Linked DNA regions of Homo sapiens. The protein of the gene in region 3 purifies or fractionates together with the protein of the main gene of each other region. This does not show direct contact. Each region holds a gene or a part of one and is shown on either strand. Other genes may lie near its edges.

The links.
Region 1: the proteins of GLT8D2 (region 3) and RMND1 purify together in Homo sapiens (affinity purification with mass spectrometry; 3 studies listed by BioGRID and IntAct, with this or other methods). This does not show direct contact.
Region 2: the proteins of GLT8D2 (region 3) and EIF2AK3 purify together in Homo sapiens (affinity purification with mass spectrometry; 3 studies listed by BioGRID and IntAct, with this or other methods). This does not show direct contact.
Region 4: the proteins of GLT8D2 (region 3) and OSBPL8 purify together in Homo sapiens (affinity purification with mass spectrometry; 3 studies listed by BioGRID and IntAct, with this or other methods). This does not show direct contact.

What each region holds. Positions count from the first base shown.
Region 1 is NC_000006.12:151,404,211-151,407,161, forward strand, and holds the end of RMND1 (required for meiotic nuclear division protein 1 homolog), read right to left. Parts: intron 1,627-2,951; coding exon 1,510-1,626; intron 1,058-1,509; coding exon 1,025-1,057; 3' UTR 552-1,024; downstream 1-551. UniProt on the Homo sapiens protein: Required for mitochondrial translation, possibly by coordinating the assembly or maintenance of the mitochondrial ribosome.
Region 2 is NC_000002.12:88,556,241-88,561,464, forward strand, and holds the end of EIF2AK3 (eukaryotic translation initiation factor 2-alpha kinase 3 isoform 1 precursor), read right to left. Parts: intron 2,740-5,224; coding exon 2,677-2,739; intron 1,697-2,676; coding exon 1,496-1,696; 3' UTR 501-1,495; downstream 1-500. UniProt on the Homo sapiens protein: Metabolic-stress sensing protein kinase that phosphorylates the alpha subunit of eukaryotic translation initiation factor 2 (EIF2S1/eIF-2-alpha) in response to various stress, such as unfolded protein response (UPR).
Region 3 is NC_000012.12:104,040,188-104,047,187, reverse strand, and holds part of GLT8D2 (glycosyltransferase 8 domain-containing protein 2), read left to right. Parts: intron 1-7,000.
Region 4 is NC_000012.12:76,556,715-76,564,476, reverse strand, and holds the start of OSBPL8 (oxysterol-binding protein-related protein 8), read left to right. Parts: upstream 1-4,705; 5' UTR 4,706-5,080; intron 5,081-5,468; exon of another isoform or gene 5,469-5,905; coding exon of another isoform or gene 5,906-5,907; intron 5,908-7,762. UniProt on the Homo sapiens protein: Lipid transporter involved in lipid countertransport between the endoplasmic reticulum and the plasma membrane: specifically exchanges phosphatidylserine with phosphatidylinositol 4-phosphate (PI4P), delivering phosphatidylserine to the plasma membrane in exchange for PI4P, which is degraded by the SAC1/SACM1L phosphatase in the endoplasmic reticulum.

The DNA.
Region 1 (2,951 bases), on a different chromosome or scaffold from region 3:
TTGTATATATTGATTTCTCTCTTTTTTTTTTTTTTTTTTTTTTTTGAGACGGGAGTCTTTCTCTGATGCCCAGGCTGGAGTGCAGTGGCATGATCTCAGCTCACTGCAAGCTCCGCCTCCCGGGTTCATGCCATTCTCCTGCCTCAGCCTCCTGAGTAGCTGGGACTGCAGGCGCCTGCCACCACACCCAGCTAATTTTTTGTATTTTTAGTAGAGACGGGATTTCACCGTGTAATGTTAGCCAGGATGGTCTCGATCTCCTGACCTTGTGATCCACTCGCCTCGGCCTCCCAAAGTGGGATTACAGGCGTGAGCCACCGCGCCCGGCCTGTATATATTGATTTAAACACTTCAGTTCCTGTATGATTCTCTTAGCCAGGGCCATGATGGGATTCCCTGGGGATAGGTTAAGTTGTGGTGTCTAAAACCTAAGTCCTGTGACTTTAAGAAGTATCTGCCAAGATTTGCCAAGATTTCCTAGATGCTAGTTTTCCAAAGTTCTTAACTGAAATATTTACCTTTTGAATTGTCAGTGATGTAGATACAAACACTAGATTCTTCATAATTTTATTCACACGATATACTGGGCTGAAAAAGATAATTTCTTGATTAAAAAAACACCTATTAAATGATCACCCAGTAGTGAACATTTATTTATTTATTTTATTGTTTATTTTTGAGACTGAGTCTCACTGTTGCCCTGGCTGGAGTGCAGTGGTGTGATCTTAGCTCACTGCAACCTCCGCCTCCCAAGTTCAAGAGATTCTCCTGCCTCAGCCTCCTGAGTAGCTGAGATGACGGGCGTGTGCCAACACACCTGGCTAATTTTGGTATTTTTAGTAGAGATGGGGTTTCACCATGTTGGCCAGGCTTGTCTTGAGCTCCTGATCTCATCTCAAGCCACCCTTCTTGGCCTCCGAAAGTGCTGGGATTACAGGCATGAGGCACCGCGCCGGGCCGAACATTTAATTTTTGATTGTAGAACTTGAATATCTCTTGCAGTGACACTTTGGTTATCACTTGATCAGAAAAATACTCGTCCCAGCTCAAACATTACCTTAGAATAGAAAGTGAGAATTATTTCATGACGGGCAAATTATGGGTACAAACTAAAATGACTTCCAAGATTGTGATTAATGAGAAATGCTCCTGAAGTAAGGTAAATGTTTGCCCTTTCTCACGTGGCAACCTATGAATTGGAGGTACGGGTGCTTGATTTGATGTTGAGCTGTACATTATAAATTTACAGCTAGAACTTTTTCCAAATGCTGTCTTTAAAAGCAGAACCTTGAGGTCTACTCTCAAATTTTAAAAAGTGGAACCTTTTCAAGAATTACTTTTAATGCATTTGCAAATAGTAATTTGAAACTTCCAAATAGAGTTAGTAATGATAACAAAGTCAGCCTCTTTTCTGCTAATAATTTTCTATCTCAAACTATCTTATTAGCATAGCCCCTGTATTTGTGAAAAGATGGTAACTGATCATAGTACAGAGCATTTCCATCTTACCTCTATGGTAATGAGGATGACAATCATCCACTCCAAGCGGAGTGCCCTCTTCTCATTCAGGTGATTCCGCATTAGATCTGTTAGTTCCATGCAGTGCTGAAGTTTTTCATTCATGACCTATGTAAGAAAAATTTCAGTAACATGTATTTAAACAATTTAATACGGTCATACACATAAAAATTCTATAGCTATACAGTGAAAAATCCTGCTCCTCAGTCCTCTCCCCAAAGGCAGCCACCAACATTATCAGTTTCTTGTGAATCCGTCCAGAGACATTTTGTAATGTACAAATTTAACTGCAAGAAATACTTTGCATACTGAAGCTCTTCTATTTGTAAGATTTTGATGGAAGAACTAAAAATAGGTTTTTGAGTCCTAGTTTTTAGTAGCTGCCCTTTTTAGCAGTTAAAAGAGGCAAACTTGAAACATAATGTTTTTTAGCAAGACCTAAAGATAATTTACTTTCTACTAGAAAATCTACGCTTAACATTTGACCTGCTGTACACACACCACTAGATGGCATTGCTTTCAACTGAACTGCAACAGTTCTGCATTCCGATGCCTCCAAACAAGCTGGCTGTGGGGGTTCAAAGAAAATAAAGTCCCTGAATTCAAAATTTGGATGTGACAACTTTTTTTTTTGTTGTTGTTGTTGTTTTTTGGGATGGAGTCTCCCTCTGTCGCCCAGGCCGGAGTGTAATGGCGGATCTCGGCTCACTGCAAGCTCTGCCTCCTGGGATCACGCCATTCTCCTGCCTCAGCCTCCCAAATAGCTGGGACTACAGGTGCCCGCCACCACGCCCGGCTAATTTTTGTATTTTTAGTAGAGATGATGTTAGCCAGGATGGTCTCGATCTCCTGACCTTGTGATCCGCCCGCCTCGGCCTCCCAAAGTGCTGGGATTACAGGCGTGAGCCACCGTGCCAGGCCTGGATGTGATAACTGTTAAATACCTACCTAATATCTTTATATATCACTTGCTACTGGAAATCCTGAAAGCAAAATTTTAAAACAGTTTGTCTCATGGGTATGCTGAAGTTACAGGTTTGGTCAGTGAACATTAAGAGATGAATCACAGGTACGTGTTCAGGGGTTGATTGGAATGCGTTAACTGCACCATGTTACGATTTTTGCACATAGCATTAAACTGCCTTACTAGGCTGGGCTCGGTGGCTTATGCCTGTAATCCTAGCATTTTGGGAGGCTGAGGCAGGAGGCGCACTTGAGCTCAGGAGTTGGAGACCAGCCTGGGCAACACAGTGAAACCCTGTCTCTACAAAAAAATTAGCCAGGCATGGTGGTGTGTGCCTGTAGTTCTAGCTACTTGGCAGGGATGAGGTGGGAGGATTGCTTGAGCTCAGGTGGTCAAGGCTGCAATGAGCCAAGATCATGCCACTGCACTCCAGCCTGGGTGCCAAAGTGAGATCCTGTCTCCAAAAAAA
Region 2 (5,224 bases), on a different chromosome or scaffold from region 3:
CAGCCACAAAGATCTGGGAAGTGTTTTTCCAGCGTACAAGTTGCTCATAACCTTGCGTGGCAGACATTATTTGTTTGTAATATGGAGATGCTATGCATTTTGACCTTTCTAGATTGTGTCTAGCTGGTTCATGCCCCATCAGCCCAGCCTGCCACATGCCTCGATGTGGCACATGTCAGATACACCTCGGTATCAATACAACTAGCATCACCACAGCCCTTTTCTCTGAGAGCTCTCCCTTTAGGGGAAAGTCCTCTATATTCTCAGTCCTTGGCACAGGGTAGGTACTGGGCAAATGTCTGTCAATTATGGATCTTGTGAATTTTGAAAGGGCCTGCCAAGTCTTTGGGAAATGATGAAAAAGATACCTGTCTGAAATGGGTTAGGAAGAAGTTTTTTTGAGGATAGGTTTATGACTCTTCCTAGATCTATGATCCCATTTTATAAATTAGAAAATCTACCATTTTGGGACTAACTCCTCAAAATAAGAGTCAACATACTTAATTTAAAAAAAGTTTTATTAAATCATTTAGACTTGAAAGAAGTCACAAGTTAACACACTTAAGTGTGTTCTGTACACCACCAACCCAAATGGATTGATTTCAGAATTTTTATAAATAAAACATAAACATATTTACAGTGAAAAATAAAAACATGTTAGCAAGTGAGATGATTAAACTGTTACCTATAATCAGTTTGGGGGAAGTACCAACCTACAGGATTACATATAAGACACTTAAGATTTCATTAGGCTTAAAAAGTCCATAGTTGAAGAAGTTAGTTGTAATATATATGATCCATTTCTTACTACGGCTTTTTTCCTCCCAAAACTAGACCTTTCAACCAATTTACATAAAAAGCTTCATTTTCCCTTTATTGGAGGTAAAAGTACAAAAAGCTGTAAACCCACCCTAGAACCATCTAAGGAATAAAGCTATTGAATGCTACAAATAGGACTATAAAACTACGGACATAAACCGTTATACAGTTTGTGCTACTTGTCCTCCAAAATAGTGCAGATTCCTAATTTACCCGCCAGGGACAAAAATGGAGTCAGCTTTTTCTAGAAATCAGTTTCAAAATCATCATATCTCTAGAAAGCATATTTCTAGAACAATACAGTTACCACACAGGGGGACTTTCCTTCTTCTGCATTATAAAAATATATCCATTTTAGTTCTCACTATATATATATATTAGGGATTGCTGCTACCTCCTTAGGCAAATGGTGAGGGCTATAAAGCTTGGCCAGCAGCCAGTTTCAAGAGACTAACAAAGAACAAAGATAGCCCTTTCCTTAAGTATAGCAAAACTCAGGAGTTGGCTCAAATTAGGTTATGCCCCCAAATCCAGCTTAAATTTGATATAAAAAAAGTAGTCCACAAAAAAATTGAGCGAAGAACAAACTTTTCAAGTCTGCAATTTTGGACAGGCATATTCTAAGAAGTAGGCTATTATCTGCATCACCTATTAGGGTTGCTAGCACAACTTAAGGCTAATTGCTTGGCAAAGGGCTATGGGAGTTGTTGGACTGTCTTGAATGTTTTGTTCCCGATGAACTCAAGGAGCGAGACCTCTGTCTGAGCACTGTTTTTCCTGGAAAGTCCAAGTCCTCAAATACAGCATTTTCAATGATGTTTATAGCTTCAGGTCGTTCCATGGGGGATGGAGAGAGCATGTCTTGAACCATCACGTACTGAAAATATAAAAATTGTTTTGTGATAAAACGGCCAGGTTTGATCACTGTACAGTTTTTAAAATCAGTGCTGGCAAAATATTTCTGTACATATTTTAAGCTTTTGAGCCATATTCGAGTTTTCAAGTCTCTGATACAACTACTCAGCTCTGCCGTCAATGCACAAAAGCATCCAGAGACAATTTGTAAATTAATGGGCATGGCTGTGTTCCAATAGAACTTTATTATAAAAATAGGTGGCAGGCTGGATTTGACCTGTGGGCACTAGTTTGCCAACCCTCATTCCAAAAAAACATGGACAATTTTTGGGTAATTTGATTTTCTAACACATTATAAAGGATTATTTAATCACATCCCTGAAACATAAATATGATTTTTAAAAATCATCTTATAATTGCATGTAAATCTACAATTATCTCAATAGAAATTTTAATTAGAAAAAATTATGGCAGAGATCAGCAACCAACACCTTTTCTTGGTTTTTAAAAATCTCTTTGAACGTAACATGTACTCTTATGAGCCACCCTGGGAATAGATTCATCAAGTTTGCAAAATACATGATGACAATTTTTAGTAAAACAGACTTAAGTATATGTAGGTATTAATATATTGTTATAAAGTCCATTTTTTAATGCAACCCTTCATTATAATACTGAAAGATAAATTTTGACTTTTTCCAATTTGAAAATGAACACATACTAACTCACTTCAACTTAATTACTTAAGGAAATTCAAGATTTATCAATATATAAATTTCACAGGTGCTACAGTGTGGAACACTGGACATTAGGCTGAAGGAGCCAGGCCCCAGCTCCAGTGTTTGGTTTTAACAAATTCTGGGCTCTTGGGAGCAGGTCTCTTTCCTCTCTAGACCTTTGGCTTCCTCATCTGTAAAATAGGGGAAACTGAGTCGACTGCTAAGGACCGCTTACGTTCTAAAGATGATTCTAAAGAAGATAAAAGATGAGAATTACACATACCTCACAAGGATATTTCTGAGTAAATAATGGTGGAAATTTGAGATTTCTTACATCAGTTAAGGTCTAAAAAGAAAAAAAGTATCACTTATTAAGTTTATTTTGACATACAACATGAAAATATTTTTTGATACTCTAACAAAATGACTAAGAGGTTGTACATCTATCAAATGGAAAATTTATCAATAGCTTTTCCTGATTTAATAACTACATATGTTTCCTGAGCACAGATGTACACTCCATCAAATATCCTCAAAATATACAGCTGGTCTTCCACATCCACAGATTCCACATCCAAGGATTCAACCAACCACAGAATGAAAATATTTAAAAAATTTAAAAATAGATGGTTGCATCTGTACTGGACAGATACAGATTTTTTTCTTGTCATTATTCCCTCATCAATACAGTATAATACTTATTTACATAGAATTTACATTATGTTAGGTACTGTAATTTACAGAAGATTTAAAATACACAGAATATATGTAGGTTCTATACAAATATTACACCATTTTATATAAGGGACTTGAGCATCTGCAGATTTGGTATCCACAGGGAGTCCTGGAACCAATCCCCTGTGGATACCAAGATGACTGTGTGTGTGTGTGTGTGTGTGTGTGTGTGTGTATGTACATTTACATATATGTGTATATATGTATGTGTGGAGGGAGGGAGAAAGAGAAAGGGGAGAGAGAGAGAGAGAAAGGGCCATATTAAAGCACAAAGAAAATATTGGAAATCTTTGTTTCTATGGAGTTGCCTCTTCTGAATATTTCATAAAAACTGAATGATATAAAAGTGGACTTTTGTGTCTGGCTTTTTTCACTCAGCATGTTTTCAAGATTCATCTACGTTGCGGCACATGTTAGTATTTCCTTCCTTGTAATGGTTGAATACTTTTCATTGTATAAAATACCACACTTTGTTTTTCCATTCATCAGCTGATGAGCATTTTGGTGGTTTCTACTTTTGGATATTAGAAATAATGCTCATATGAACAGTTGTATACAAGCTTTTGTCTATGTTTTCATTTCCCTTGAGTACATACCTAGGAGTAGAATTACTGGATTCTATGGTAATTCTATGTTTAACTGTTTAAGGAACTGCCAGACTGTTTTCCAAAGCAGCTGCACCATTTTACATTCCACCAGCAACGTATGAGGGTTCCAATTTCTCCACATCCTAGCCAACACTTGACATTTCCTTTTTTTTTAATTTTTTTATTACAGATACCCTAGATGGTGCTGAAGTGGTATCTCATTGTGGTTTTGATTTGCATTTCCCTAATGCCCAACGATGTTGAGCATCTTTTCACATGCTTATTGGCCATTTGTTTATCCTCTTTGGAGAAAGTTCTATTGCTTTGCCCCTTTTTAAAATGAGTTGTCTTTTTGTTGAGTTGTAATAGTTCTTTATGTATTCTGAATTCTAGACACTTTTCGGATATAGGATTTACAAATATTTTCTCCCATTCTGTGAGCTGCCTTTTCACTTTCTATTTCATTTAATTAATTTATTTAGAGATAGGGTCTCATGGTGCCCAGGCTATTTGCAGGCATAATCATAGCTTACTGTAGCCGTGAACTCCTGGTCTCAAGGAATTCCTTTTGCCTCAAGCTTCCCACGTAGCTGGGACTACAGGCATGTGCTACCACGTCCACCTTGTCTTTTCACTTTCTTGACAGTATTCTCTGAGGCATTTATAACTATATAAATTTTGATGCCATCTGATTCTTGATCCTTTACTTAGGTTAGACCTGTTTTATTTTCCTTTCTGGAAGCTTTTAGGGCCTTTATTTCTGGTGTTCTGAAAATGGTTATTTTGACTGTTTTTTTTTTTTTTTCATTCATTGTACAGAACATTTGGTAGGTCCTTTCGGTTAGAAGATATGAGTCATTTTGCTCTATGTGAGAACTACATCCTCTTCTACCATGGCCAGAGATCAATAAGTAAGATCTAAAACTGATAAAATAAGAAATAGTGACAAGAGCCTAAACTTTGAAAATATGGAGATAAGTACCAGGGACAACAACTAGAAGAGGTGAGGGTAGCTACTTATGAAAGATAGGGAAGAATGTGACAGAGGCCCACTTTATTTTCAGAGACAGGGTCTTGCTGTGTCGCCCAGGCTGGAGTGCAGTGGCACAATCATAGTGATCTTCCTGCCTTAGCCTCTCAAGGCATGTGCTACCATGCCTTGCTAATTTTTAAATTTTTTGTAGAGATGGGGTCTTACTATGTTGCCCAGGCTGGTGTTGAACTCTGGCCTCAAGTGATCTTCCTGCTTGAGCCTCCCAAAGTGTTGGGATTAGAGGTGTGAGCCACCATGCCTGGCCAGAGGGCTACTTTTTTTTTTTTTTTCGAGACAGAGTCTCACTCTGTCACCCAGGCTGGAGTGCAGTGGCGCGATCTCTGCTCAATGCAAGCTCCGCCTCCCGGGTTCACACCATTCTCCTGCCTCAGCCTCCAGAGTAGCTGGGACTACAGGCACGTGCCACCATGCCCGGCTAATTTTTTGTATTTTTAGCAGAGATGGGGTTTTACCGT
Region 3 (7,000 bases):
CTTCTCAGCTTCCAGAACTATAAGAAATAAAGTTTTGTTGTTTAGAAGCCACCCAGTTCAGGCTGGCATGGTGGCTCATGCCTGTAATCACAGCACTTTGGGAGGGTAAGGTGGGAGGATCTCTTGAGGCCCAGAGTTCTAAACCAGACTAGGCAACATAGCAAGACTCTGTCTCTACAAAAAAAATTTTTAATTAGCTGGATGTGGTGGTGGTGCATGCCTATTGTCCCAGCTATTTGGGAGACTGAGGTGAGAGGACAGCTTGAGCCCAGGAATTCGAGGCTATAGTAAGCTACGATCATGCCACCACACTCCAGCCTAGGTGATAGAGTAAGACCCTGTCAAAAAAAAAAATGGAGTAAGACACCTGTTCTATGTATCTTGGTGAATCTTGAGTAAACCTTTCATTATAGCAAAAAGTTAAAAGGCAAGAGATATTTTGTTAGAGGACAGACTCCTGAGTCCTGATCTTGTCCTTTCTCTTTCCTTTAGTGAATTCTTACTCTTGTCCTGTTAATGACTTTGTAGCTTGCATAGCTTAAAATGAAGTGCTCTGTTAAATGTGTCTATGCATTTGAGAACTTCAGGGTGCAAGTCTTGCAGAGTTAACTCACAGAGCTTATGTCAGTTGCTTGACACAGTGATAGCAACCATAGCGATGGAAAGTGGTTGGCTGTAGTAACTATCAAGGTGGTTAAGAATGTGAACTCAGAGCCAGGATGCCTGCGTGTAAATATTAGCTCTGCCACTTATTAGTTGTGTGACCCTTAGCAGACCTCTTAATTCTCTGAGCCTCAGTTTTCTCACCTGTGTATTGGAATAATAACTTTAAGGAGTTGTTGTGATAATCCGTGAATGAATATTTGTAAAAGTCGTAGAACAATGCCTAGCACATAGAATTGCTACGTAAGTGTTAAAATAATAATAGTTAATACTTATGTAGCAATAGCTTTGTAATATGCAGAACTATCCCGTTTTACACATAGGGTTTTGTAAGTCACCCCATGATTACACAGCTAATTAGGATTCACAGTCAGCTCTGTCTAAGGATAAAGCCCATATTTCCACTAACCTACACAGCTCTCATATTTAAGTCATTCAACAGTACTTTTAGGAACCCCCTCTTTTATCTTGCTTTTTGATTCCCAGTCATTTCCTATTACTCCCTACCATACTATAACCATGGCAGACATGATTAATCAATCACTTTCTTTCTTTCTTTCTTTCTTATTTTCTTTCTTTCTTTCTTTTTCTTTCTTTCTTTCTTTCTTTCTTTCTTTCTTTCTTTCTTTCTTATCTTTCTTTTCTTTTCTTTTTTAACTGAATCTAGTGATGGCTTCAGATTTCTTCTCAATCTAGCAATCCCAACAGCCCATACCATAGCCAATCAGAGCTGGCATGTAAAATGAAACACAGGGGCACTGATTTTTGGAGTATTTTTCTGAAGAGCCTTTCCCACTTTGCTTTTTGTTCCAAGGCAGAGCAAATTCCCTTAGCCACTGCCAGGTCTCAAAACATTCTTTCCAGGTTTGGCCACATGCCTAAACTCTTTGGCATCTGGTAAAATGGCTCCCCATGCAAGGTCTTCAGGGGCTTATTTTTAAACTTACAGGCCTCTTCTCATGCCCAGAACAACTCTCTGTACTCTCCTTTTCTTCCTACTCACAGGCCCTAGAACCTCAACCTTCTTTTCTCCCCTCTTTGAAGATGCTACTGCCCAGTGCCTTGCCTGCCCTGCAGTGGCTCCCAGCTCCACCTCTCTGTCTGTCCTGAAGACAGGCCTGCAGGCAATTTCTTGTTAAAGGCTTGGCTATTTATTACCACAGAGAAACCACACACACGGAAGTCACTAGGGCTAGGAAAGCTCACAGAGGTGTAAGGGGCACAGTTCTGGGGCTCTTTGTTGTGACAGTAGCAGGAAGGCTGATGAGATGACCAGAGCCCTCTGCTTTTATTCCTGGAGTGGGATCATCAGCAGTTCCCCTCCTTCTGGCTGAGTCCTTTCTTTCTGGGGCTGAAGAGCAGAGCAACAAGAGCCTCTCGCCTTTTCTTTCTCTCTCCTGATTCTCATTGATTCAACACACATTTATTGAGTTCCCACCTTGGGGCAGGACAGGCAGATGGAAGTGAGGAAGCCACAGTCGCTGTCCTCAGTGGTCTGTCTGGTCCTTCTTTTAAAGATAGATATGCTGAAATATTTAGGGGGAGAAGTGTCATGATGTTTACAACTTCCAAAAATATATATGTACATATGAAGTTCAATTAAGTAAATATGTCAACATGTTAGCAACTGGTGGATCTGGTGAAAGGTATATGAGTATTTATTCTTCAGACTTTTCAGCGGTCTTGAAATGTTTCAAGCGAAAAAAAGAAAAAGGAAATCAAACAAAAAATTAAGGCTACTCAAGCTGCATTTGTGTTTCAAATGAACTTGATATGATTATCGAACAACAAAAAAGTTACTATGGCCGTTAGGCCAGTGATGGATTGAGGAAGGGCAGTGTACAGAAATTCTAAAGGCAGGAAGGCCAGGTGGGAGGTTATTGCAGAGGTGTAATTAGTAGGACTCGGTGATTGAAGGAGGAATTAGGAGGGAGAAGTTGAAGAGGAATCTGAGAACCCCAGAGAAGGAGTTTCTGTAGGGGAGGTGCTAATTTCAGTTGTGAATGTAGGGGCTTTGAGATACTTGTGCAGCACCCTGAGGAGACAGTTGCACATTCATCCCTTTGGTCCATAAATGTTTTCTGAGGGCTTATATTGCCAGGCACTTGTCTAGATGCTGGGTGTATGGCAATGAATGAAACAAAATTTCCTGCCTTCATGGGGCTTATAGTCTGTCATTTGGATGGCAGCCAGTACACCGGTGATGACGAGGCAGTCTGTTGGAAGATGGTAATTGCTGAGGGGATGCAATTTGTGCATTGTTGGGGTTAGAGGCTTTTGACTAAGAGACTGAGAGACATGAGGGGGCAAGCCATGTAGATATCTGGGAAGAGGATTCCAGGCAGCAGGAATAGCACGTGGCCAAGGCTCTGAGGCAGGAGGCTGTCTGGCAAGGAGGCCGGTGTGATCACGCGATACCTTATGGAAGGATGCTGTAATGACTTTGGTTTTTGCTCTGAGAGAGACAGGAAGGCCTTGGAAGGTTTTGAACAGAGCACAGCACAATGCGACTCCTATTTTCACAGGTTCATTCTGGCTGCTTTGTTGAAAATCAGCTGAAGGGAGACAAAGGCAGAATAATATAGTCAAAGGCTAATGTGCCAGGGTGGAGCCACAGAAGGTGGTAAAAATTCTGGATCTATTTTGAAAGTGGAACTGACAAGATTTGCTGTCAGTGCACATGGGAATAAGGAACAGAGAGGGGTTAAGGAAACACCAAGCTGATTTTTTTGTGGAGCAATTTAAAAAACGGAGTCACAGCCGGGCACAGTGGCTCACACCTGTAATCCCAGCACTTTGGGAGACCAAGGTGAGTGGATCACCTGAGGTCAGGAGTTCAAGAACAGCCTGGCCAGCATGGCGAAACTGCCTCTCTACTAAAAATACAAAAACTAGCTGGGCGTGGTGGTGCACACATGTAATCCCAGCTACTAGGGAGGCTGAGGCAGGAGAATTGCTCTAACCCAGGAGGCGGAGGTTGCAGTGAGCCAAGATTGTGCCACTGCATTCCAGCTTGAGAGACAGAACAAAACTCCATCTCAAAAATAAAAATAAAAACTAAATGGAGTCACCCGAACTGATTTGGGGAAGATTATGGGAAGGGCATGTTTCGGGGGAAATACCAGAAGCTCAGTTTTGGACACGTGGATTACTATAAGTGCAGATGCCAAATGGCATCTGGAGTCTGGAATCCATGTGAGATGGCTGGCCTGGAGATAGAAATTTGGGAGTTTTCAGCATATAAATTATATTTAAAGCCATGAGTCAGGATGAAGTCTCCTAAGGAGGGAGTTTAGAGAAAGAAGAGAAGAAATCGCTAAGGTGTTCCAACATTTAGATATTCAGGAGGTAGGAGCAACCAGTGAAAGAGACTGAGAATGAGCCATCAGAAAGGTGGAGGAAAAGCAGGTGAGCCGAGTCCCCCGGGCCACGTGCAGGAAGCATGTAAGGAGGAGAGAGCGGGCACATAGTCTGCATCTCACGCACCCATGCCTCAACCCTAGTGAGGAACAAGTCCTGTGGTGCAGTTCTTTGCATGCCGGGACCTTGTTAGCCAGAAGATGTTCTCTCAGACTCTGCCCCATTCCAGTTTCTCTTGGTTCCAGATCTCTGCCTTTTACTCTACCTCAAGCTTGTCCAACCCGTAGCCCACAGGCCACAGGCAGTGCTGGACAGCTTTGGATGCAGCCCAACACAAATTCATCAACTTTCTTAAAACATAATGAGATTTTTGTGTGTGTGTGATTTTTTTTGTTTAGCTCATCAGCTATGTTTCATGTTAGTGTATTTTATGTGTGGCCCAAGACAATTCTTCTTTCAGTGTGGTCCAGGGAAGCCAGAAGATAGGACACCCCACCCTACACATTCTTAAGCTGTCCAGCATCACTTCCTTGGTTCTCCAGTTCTCTATCCCTGACTTCCTATCAGTTTTCTACCTCTTTATAACTCTGATCCCTCTCTTAATTCCCCACAATCAGCTTATCCCCAGGACTTCAGTTCTGCAAAAATTTCTTGAGAACCTACTTAATCTACTGGAATGTCTTTGACTTCAAATACCAGAAACACTGATTTACGGCAGCTTAAACACATGGGTTGATTCTGTCACATAAGAAGTTTGGAGGAGGTAGGTATTGATGGCATTGATTCAGCAGTTCGATGACATAAGAGCTGACCATTCTGTGTAGCTCTTGACCTCTCCCTCATGGTCTCAAGGTGGCTGCCTAGCTCCAGCCATTATGGCCCCATGCAAGGCAGGAGGAAGGGGGAGTTGACACTTCATCCAGAAAGGAAAAGCTTTCTCAGATATTCCCAGTAGATTTCCACTTAAGTCTCTGTGCATCAGATCTATATTATGTGGCTACTACTAGCTGCAAAGAAGGCTGGTAAAATCTTTATTTGGATTTTCCTCTCTCTCATATGGAAACAGGCAAAGGAGAAAAGGATGGGAAGAGCTGTTGGATCAGCCAGCTATCAAGGCTGCCACACTACCAAGTGCCAAATGCTTGCCATGAACTGGAAATACAGAAATGATTAACGTAGTACCCGTCCTGTCCCTGGAGCTTGCGTTCTAGTAAGGAAACATAAGAATGAACGGAGTATCTTGGTTTGGTTTGGTGGAGACCAGGAGCCTTCCCTGACCCCCATGATCTGGTCAGGTGCCCCTCCTTGATGCTAAAACAATATCCCATGCTTACATCTACCAAGGCATCTAAGCACACTGTATTGCCATTATATATTTACTGGTGTCTTCCCCTCCCTTCCCCCAAATGTGGACTAACTGGGGACTTATCTTTGAATCTCTAGTGCCTGGGTGCCTGGTATATTCGTAGAGGTTGAGTAAATGTTTGTTGAATGAATCAAAGAAATGTCAAGGGAACCCCCTAATTACCTTCTTGTCCTGGGTTGGGCCCTTATCCCATCTTAGCTTTGTTGTTGTTGCTGTTGTTGTTGAGAAAGAGCCTTGCTTTGTCACCCAGGCTGGAGTGCAGTGGTGCGATCTGTGTTTACTGCAACCTCCGCCTCCCTGGTTCAAGCAATTCCCCTGTCTCAGCCTCCCAAGGAGCTGGGATCACAGGTGCGTGCCACCACATCCAACTAATTTTTTCTTTTTTGAGACAGAGTCTCTTTCTGTCGCCCAGGCTGGAGTGCAATGGTGCGATCTTGGCCGACTGCAACCTCTGTCTCGCAGGTTCAAGCGATTCTCCTACCTCAGCCTCCTGACTAGCTGGGATTACAGGCGCCTGTCACCACGCCCAGCTAATTTTTGTATTTTTAGTAGAGACAGCGTTTTACCATGTTGGCCAGGCTGGTCTCGAACTCCTGACCCCAGATGATCCACCCACCTCAGCCTCCCAAAGTGCTGGGATTACAGGGGTGAGCCACCACGCCTGGCCCCACACCCAGCTAATTTTTGTATTTTTAGTAGAGACGGGGTTTCACCATGTTGGCCAGGCTGGTCTCGAACTCCTGACCTCAAGTGATCTGCCCACCTAGGCCTCCCAAGGTGCTGGGATTACAGGCGTGAGCCACCGTGCCCAGCCCCTTAGCATTTTTAGCTAGTTAACTCATATTTACATTCTAATAGCAAAATCTCTAACACCTTGCCAGAAAACAGTGCTGACTCCCCAATCACTTTTGTAATGTTAAAAATAAATTTATTTATTCTCACATTCAGTAGAACTCTGAACTTACAAATTTACACCCAGTAAAGTCACAACACAGCATCTAAAAAGCTAAAAGTACCTATATACTCGAGTCTCATAGTACTTAGAAAATGGGATGCTTAATTTTTCAATTTGTTAGGCTGGGCGTGGTGGCTCACGCCTGTAATCCCAGCACTTTGGGAGGCTGAGGCGGGTGGATCACGAGGTCAGGAGTTCAAGACCAGCCTGGCCAAGATGCTGAAACCCCATCTCTACTAAATATGCAAAAATTAGTTGGGCATGGTGGCACGCGTCTGTAATCCCAGCTACTTTGGAGGCTGAGGCAGGAGAATCGCGTAAACCCGGGTGCCAGAGGTTACAGTGAGCCAAGATCAAGCGACTGCACTCCAGCCTGGGCGACAGAACAAGACTTCGTCCCAAAAGAAAAAAAACATTTTTTTTTCAATTTGTTGTTTTTTATTTCAAAGAGATGTATAGTTAATCTGACTCATTTGAATAACAGTGAGTGAATTGCAGATACTGTTATCAAAGATAGCAATTCTACAGGCATAAATAATTTTTTTATTATTATACTTTAAGTTCTAGGGTACATGTGCACAACGTGCAGGTTTGTTACATAGGTATACATGGGCCATGTTAGTTTGCTGCACCCATTAACTTGTCATTTACATTAG
Region 4 (7,762 bases), about 27 Mb from region 3:
AGACCAGCCTAGCCAACATGGTGAAACCCCTGTCTCTACTAAAAATAAAAAAATTAGCTGGGCGTGGTGGCACGTGCCTGTAGTCCCAGCTACTCGGGAGGGTGAGGCAGGAGAATTGCTTGAACCTGGGAGGCGGAGGTTGCAGTGAGCTGAGATCATGCCACTGCACTCCAGCCAGGGCGACAGAGAATCCCTGTCTAAAAAAAAAAAAAAAAAAAAATCTTAATTATTAGCCTGAAGTTTTTGGGGACCACCCAGCTAGTATGAATTCAAGCTACGTTTTTGTGTGAGAATTGGATTGCAGTTCCAAATTCTCAGATACGATTTTGCTTTTCCCCTGTCCACCAGGTGCCAAGGTTTAAGACGGCTAATTTTCTTTGTAGATTCTGGGGGATGGGTGCCTATGCTAGTAAGCAGCAAGTTTATTTCTAGTATATCCTTACATCAAATTAATAATCCTTGGAATTGCAGTTGTTTGTGTGTGTGTGTGTGTGTGTGTGTGTGTGTGTGTGTGTATAATGCAGGTAATGGGTTTTGTGTCTTTCTTACAAGGTCACGAAAACCAATGCTCCTAGTAACTGGGTTTAGCACATGCCCTTGAGATAAAAGTTGGCTGACTCTGCTAAACTCTAGGTTCCTGCCTTCATTTAGTTTTTTAACTTAATAATTTCTTACCCTATTGTCAGTTAATCAATATATTTAATAAGATTTAAAAAATGTTTTTTCCAGGGATTTTGTTTTCAGTGTGACAAGTGTGAACTAGTCCTTGATATTTCTAGAAACAGAATCCTATATTCTCTTTATACTTTACTATCCAAATTTTCCTCAAGGGATATTTAAGACAAATAATACTAAACAGAAATATTTAAAATCAGTATGTAAATATCTTACATGCAAACATTTTGCATGCAAATTTACAGATTTTATAAAGACTGCTTCTTAACATAAATTTTAGGTGGATATTTACCAAATAGCTGGTTGACTAGTTTGTAGATGTCTGTTATTTATTTTATTAAATAGACAAATATTATTGTTCCACAGTACATTTAGCCTTTGACTCATGAGTTTGTTGGCTCAAATTCACTTTAGATGATTTGCAAGATTATGCTACGCAACAAACAATCTCAAAAATATTTGTGATTCACAACAACAAATATTTTTGTTTTACTCTTGTTTCACATCAGTAGCCGTATGTCAGGAGCTGCAAGTCAGTTGCTTCAGTTCTGTACAGGGTGAGAGTTTCAGGTCTGCTCCATCTATTTTCTTATTCTGAGATCTTATCTGGAACATACCTTTCTCATGGCAGGTGGCACAAGAGTAAGAGATTGACCTGAATTTTGCAATCAAATTTAAAGCCTCTGCTTTGATTTAGCATTTAACATCTGCTCACAAAGCACTGGCTAAAGCAAATCACATGACCAACAAGAATACAAGTCTTCAAAGCTGTGTTGAATACCTTATTTATGGCTGAGGTTGCTCTTAATCTAAATTCTCTTCCAGAAAATGAGGATTTTAGTCTAGAATCCTGATTAGTAATTGTCAGCAACATAATTGTCTAATGGGATAAGCCAAATGGAAAAAAGCAAACAACCTCAAGCAACATCTCTGTCATTCTAGGTCAGGGTTGAAATATACTGTGGGAAAGGCTGTCAAGCCTGTCAGTGCTTAAACTAATTTGGAAAGAACTTCCCATTCTTAGAAATGTATAATTAATAAAGCAGTAGGCAAAAGAGATGAATTCTCATTGGAGTTAAAATCGGATCGTTATAATAAAAAAGCTTTATTTCAAAATGTCATTCTTAAAATCATTGTAAGAGTAGCAAACTTGCAGGGCATCTCTGGGAGTTACTGAATATTTTTCAGTTACAGTGCAGGATCACATATTAGTTTCTGTTTATGTTGTCATTACATTGAAAATGCTAGATTGAATTATCATTCCTGGAATCACAATATCAGATTTGAAAGGATCTGAAAAAATGATTTTTCAACTGTAGTGGATTAATATATTTTTGTGTTGCAATCAGTTGTTAAGTATGTCAAAATCATTAGTTATTCATGACAAGTAACTATTATACTAGTGATAATCAAAGTAGAGAAGATTGTGAAAGATATACTTACATTTGTTTTGCAATATCTTCACTTTCAATTACTTGCATTAGGACTTTCTTTTTTTTGAGTGGAGCTGAAAGAAGTTAAACGTAGGCTGTCAGTAATTTGCATAATCCTGAGTATACCGTGTCTGTTTGTTTCCAATGTGATTGCCATCCACCGGGAAAAAAAAAAGGTGGTTTAGTATCATTTCTCAAACAGCATGTGGTCCTACTTGATTGGAACTTGAAATGCAGGGAGTAATTTATCTAGTCATACATCTCATTAGCTAAGTCTGTAACCTAGGCTTCCTTGCTTCCAGTACATTGCTTTTTCCAACAAATGATCAAATTTTCAAAAGCCAATGTATGAAATTGGGGCTGAGGCAGAAGAGAATTAGGCAAGGCAATTTGCCACCTTTTTCTAATCTTTAGTCTCAGTTTCCAAAGTAAAATAAAAGTACCAGAAAAACGGGGTCCAGATGGTGTATTTTGCATATTATCTATGCTCTAGGAACATTCTTTTCCAAATCTATTTGATTGCAACTCACAGTAAGAAATTGTTTAAATCACAACATAGGACATACTCTCACCTTCCACCATATTTGAAACAAAAAGTTTCAGGAAGCAATTTTTGCCCTTACTAGACATTATGCACTCTGGTATTTTATATTGTATTACATCCTAGCCTATTTCATATAAAAATGAAATTGATTTTTGAGTTGCAGGTTGAAAAACATGCCTCTAGAAAACAGGAGACAAGTTAATCTGTTAACAAACTCCAAAGTTACTAGCTTTGCTGAAATAATGTCACAGAATAATAAACTTCCTTCACATTTATTTGTACTACAGTCTCTCAGGCTTCAGAACAGAACCTGGTAGAATCTTTTCCTCTTTGGAACACCAGTTCATGACAATATCTCAGAGATTCTAAGACTCGTTGTTTCCCAGTTCATGACAATATCTCAGAGATTCTAAGACTCGTTGTTTCCCAGTTCATGACAATATCTCAGAGATTCTAAGACTCGTTGTTTCTGACATGTTTACATCTCTGAATTCAAGATGTGTCTCAGGCCGGGCGCGGTGGCTCATGCCTGTAATCCCAGCATTTTGGGAGGTCGAGGCGGGTGAATCATTTGAGGTCACGAGTTCAACACCAGCCTTGCCAAAATGGTGAAACCTCCTCTCTACTAAAAATACAAAAATTAGCTGGGCATGGTGGCGCATGCCTGTAATCTCAGCTCCTTGGGAGGCTAAGGGAGGAGAATCGCTTGAACCGGGAGGCGGAAATTGCAGTGGGCCGAGATTGCGCCTCTGCACTCCAGTCTGGGAGACAGAGTGAGACCCTGTCTCAAAAAAAAAAGGAAAAAGATGTGGCTTAAAGGTGCCTTACATATCAGCGGTATGGCATAGTTTCATTGGCAGCCTTTGTTTTCTTTCTTGGGTAACATAAAACAATGTAAGTCTATGATTTTTTTAGAGCTGCTATGAAATATATTAATAATAATTATATAGGCCAAACTCTATTGCTTATTCATTTCAATGTATCCAGCTTATCAGAATGCCTTCTGATTTCTTGTTAAGAAAATGTAATGAGATGAGAATAGCTTAAGAAAAAAATCCTTAGTTCTGGGCTACAAGGGAAAATGAGTTATGACCCCAATTTAATTATTACAGAAAGCTTTCTCATTTGCCTTCATTGTGATCAGGGTTTGAGTATGATCTTTATTCTACCTCCCTTACTTCTGTATAGTTAGGATTTCATTAGGCGGCTAGAGGGTTCTTCGGATCATGGCTAAAAAAGAAAGCAAAAGGTTAAGTCCTAGAGTTAAGGAATTAGGAAAAAAAAATTAAGGCATTAGAAAAAAAATCAAGAATTAGGCTTTATTTTAAAAAATGGAACAAACTGTCAAATTCCTGCGTACCCGTTTAAACTGTCACCAACCTAACACACTGTAAAACTTAATGACTGTAAAACTGGCAGCAGGATCCTGAACATAACAAGGAACAAAAATAAGTTTGCTAGGCTGTTTTCATCCCAGCATGATTGAAATACACCGTTTCCTCAAAAAAAAAAAAACCTCTAATGAGGAAAGCAGTAAATTAAATGCCACGGTTAATGTGCCACTAGAAATAGGAACAAGTAGTTTAGTTACCGAATGCTTCTTAGGCCATACACTCTACACCACGATGCGTTCTTTTTTCTGTTTCGCTAAAGCTTTCACCAAGCCTAAGGCTGGAGAGGGGTCCTAACTGAGCCCTGACCAGACCAGGGAGCCCTACTGTGCAATCTCCTCAGGTTAGGAAGGGCCCAGTATGACCGGCCCAGAAGGCCTGGCCGATCAACAGGCGCTGGGCCGACGGTGGTGGGCTCGCTTCCTGAGGCTGCCCTTGGGCATGCGGAAGGGGACTGGCTGGCGATAACACCCTGGCGAAGCAAGGTGGACAGTGACTCCCGCCCGGTTCGAGCCCGCCTAGCAGGGGAAGCAACTCCACCACCGCCTCCGCGCACCGTCACGTGACGGGAAGAGGGCGTGGCCGAAGCCCGTGATCCGGGGGGCGGGCGGGGCAGGGGGAGGGCACTAGAATGTGAAGGATCTTCGCGGTTCTGGGTGCCCAGAAAGGCGGCGACGCGGCGGATGACAACATTAGGCCGCGACGCGCTCCTGGCCAGGCGGCGGCTGTAGTGTTAGCTTTGGACGCCGCAGTAGCCGCTGCCGGTAGCAAGCCGACTGAGGGAAGGTGGGGGTCCGCCCGGGCTGGTGGACCTCGGGGCCGAAAGTTCCCGCCCCGCTCGGGGGCTGAGCCGGCAGTGCCTCCGCGGCCGCTGGGCAGCGCCCTTCGTCCAGGCTCGCGCCCCAGCTGCCGCCGACGACAGCGGCCGAGAGAAGTTGGGGTCTGACTAGACGCTTACGGGGCCTCGGACCCCGGCGCCGCGGCGACCTCGGAGGAACCGGCTCCTTGCGTCCCGCCTCCCTGGGAGCTCCGCACGGGTGAGTGTTGCTCCATTCCTGAGGTTGGGGTGCTGGGTTCGCACCCCTCAGGGCGACTGCGCACCCTTATTGCCACGTTCTGAGCTCGGGCTGTCGGGGACTCCTGGCCACCCCCGCCGAGGAGTTCTTTGGCTCCTTTGTTCCCTTTTGGAGTAGGGGGATTGGAAAGGCTGGCAGGGTGGAGTGTTTAGGGGCCCACAGTAGGTGCATCTGCAGCCTTACAAAAGCCGCGGCAGGGGAACGGGGGTGGGAGGCTGTTGGAGCATTTCGACCGCCCCGGGTGTCTGTCCCTCCTGAAGTTTGATAGGTTGATGGCATGGGCCTCGTTGGGAGCCCCCGCGCCCAGGAGAGCTGGCGCTTTGTCGCTCGGTGCGGTTAAGGCGAGGCTCCTTCTTTCCTGTGACAGCCCCAGAGAAGGCTGTGCCGCGCACCGCAGACCGCACCCGCCTTTGCAGAGCCAAGCGACACGGTGTTGTTCCTCTAAGCCTCAGTTCTCCCGGCCTTCTTGTAACGTAGGAGGAAAGCCAAGCCTTTGCTGTGCTTTTAAATTTAATGTTTGTTTCTAAGCCCTCTCTCAAGAGTGGAATCAGGTTCCAAGGAGCTTCACAGGCAGCATGCTTTAGGTTCATTGAACCACCCACTCAAGACTGGCTGAGGCGAAGCAACAGTATATGCAGATTTTCCATTCACAAAAGTCATTTAACACTCTTCTTTATGAGACACATCTGCGTTGCAGAACGTAACCTAATTTCATTTTATTTAAATGCTTTCTGAAATAATAGGTAACTTGGACAACGTAAACAGATGGGTAAACTTTAACTGATAATGTAAGTATATATGCATTAAATAAAAAATTTAATGATGTTTTTGCCTTTCTGCTGCTAGAAGACTTAAATGACGTCTGAGTAGTAATACAGTGTCTCCTGCATGGCAGTTAAGTTTTTCCCAAAATTAGTGCTGCTTTTGAAATAATCCTTTAAAACAGTTTTTGCCTCCCTTCGTATCTAGAGAGAGCAAGAATTGTGGAGAATCGTGGGTGAATTGATTGTTAAATTTTGCTAATTTCCTAGAGTTTCATCTAAACTTGATTTTGCTGAGAGGCTATGATCAGTTTCTATGCTTGCTAGAACCTGTTTTGCAGTGAAATTATTAAGATCATGCTAGTTTTATAAAATAGGTTGGAATAGGAAAAGTAAGGCCATGCAATTTAAAACTGTTCTCTATAAAAGTACAACTAATTTCAAATGTTTGTTACTTTTATTTTTTTTTAATATTAACCGTGTATGGAGTGACTATAATATACCTGCTCAAAGGGCTGAGAAAGGAAATAGATGAAACTTAAGCTACCTTTTGGGTCTTTAATTATGGACATCAAGTTATTGCGGTCACATTCCATGTCAACCGTTTGAACAGCAATACCGTGTACACAGGTGCTTAGAAATGCCTGTTTAATTAAAAATGGCCATGGTTTATTTCTCTTTGATTGAATCATAATAGTTATTGAATCTCTGATCTGTGGAAAGATGCTACTGTATTTTCCTTAGAATGTTACTGCATTTTAAAGACAGTCAAATATGTTTTTTATAACACATTCAGGGTACTTATACATTTGTCAATATTCAGTTCCTTGGTTCATTTAAAAATTGGAAGCCTTAGAAAACACTTTGGGGATAAATTTACAATTGTGTATAATGAATTTATGTTTTAGTTTGCTTTAAGAAAAATGATGAAATTATGAATTTGTAAAATATGCATTACAAAAGGATTTTTTTTTTTTTTTTTTTTAAGACTGTCTCACTCTGTATCCCAGGCTGGAGTGCAGTGGTGCAACTTGGCTCACTGCAGCTTCTGCCACCTGGGTTCAAGAGATTCTTATGCTTCAGCCTCCTGAGTAGCTGGGATTACAGGTGCGTGCCACCATGCCAGGCTAATTTTTGTATTTTTATTAGAGATGGGGTTTCACCATGTTGGCCAGGCTGGTCTCCAACTCCTGGCCTCAAGATCCGCCCGCCTCAGCCTCCCAAAGTGCTGGGATTACAGTCATGAGCCACTGTGTCTGGCGGATCTTTTGTTTAAAAGTATGAATTGCAGAATTTTAACCAGTGTTAGTACATTTCAACTTGGCTTTGGTTTGTAAATAATCCTTCAAAAGTAGATTACTTGAATTAAGGCATTAAAGACAAAGAATTGATACAGTACATAGATCTAGTTTTCTAATATTAATTTGGAAAACTTTTATCCTAATATTATCCTAATAACAATGCCTGAAATGTCATGTTGTAATGTTTGTATTATATTGAAAGTTAAAAACATTTATAGCAATGTTCTTGGAGCATCAGGCAATTCAAAGAGGACATAGGTCCTGCCTTAATCTTACAAATAATGACCTGCAAATAAGACAGAAACACAACTTGAATAAAAAAGCCTTTGAGAGGCCAGGCCCGGTGGCTCACGCCTGTAATGCTAGCACTTTGGGAGGCTGAGGTGGGCAGATCATGAGGTCAGAAGTTCAAGACCCGCCTGGCCAACATGGTGAAACCCCGTCTCTACTAAAAATACAAAAAAATTAGCTGGGCGTGGCAGTGTGTGCCTGTAATCCCAGCTACTTGGGAGGCTGAGGCAGGAGAATCGCATGAACCCAGGAGACAGAGATTGCAACGAGCCAAGATCATGCCATTGCAC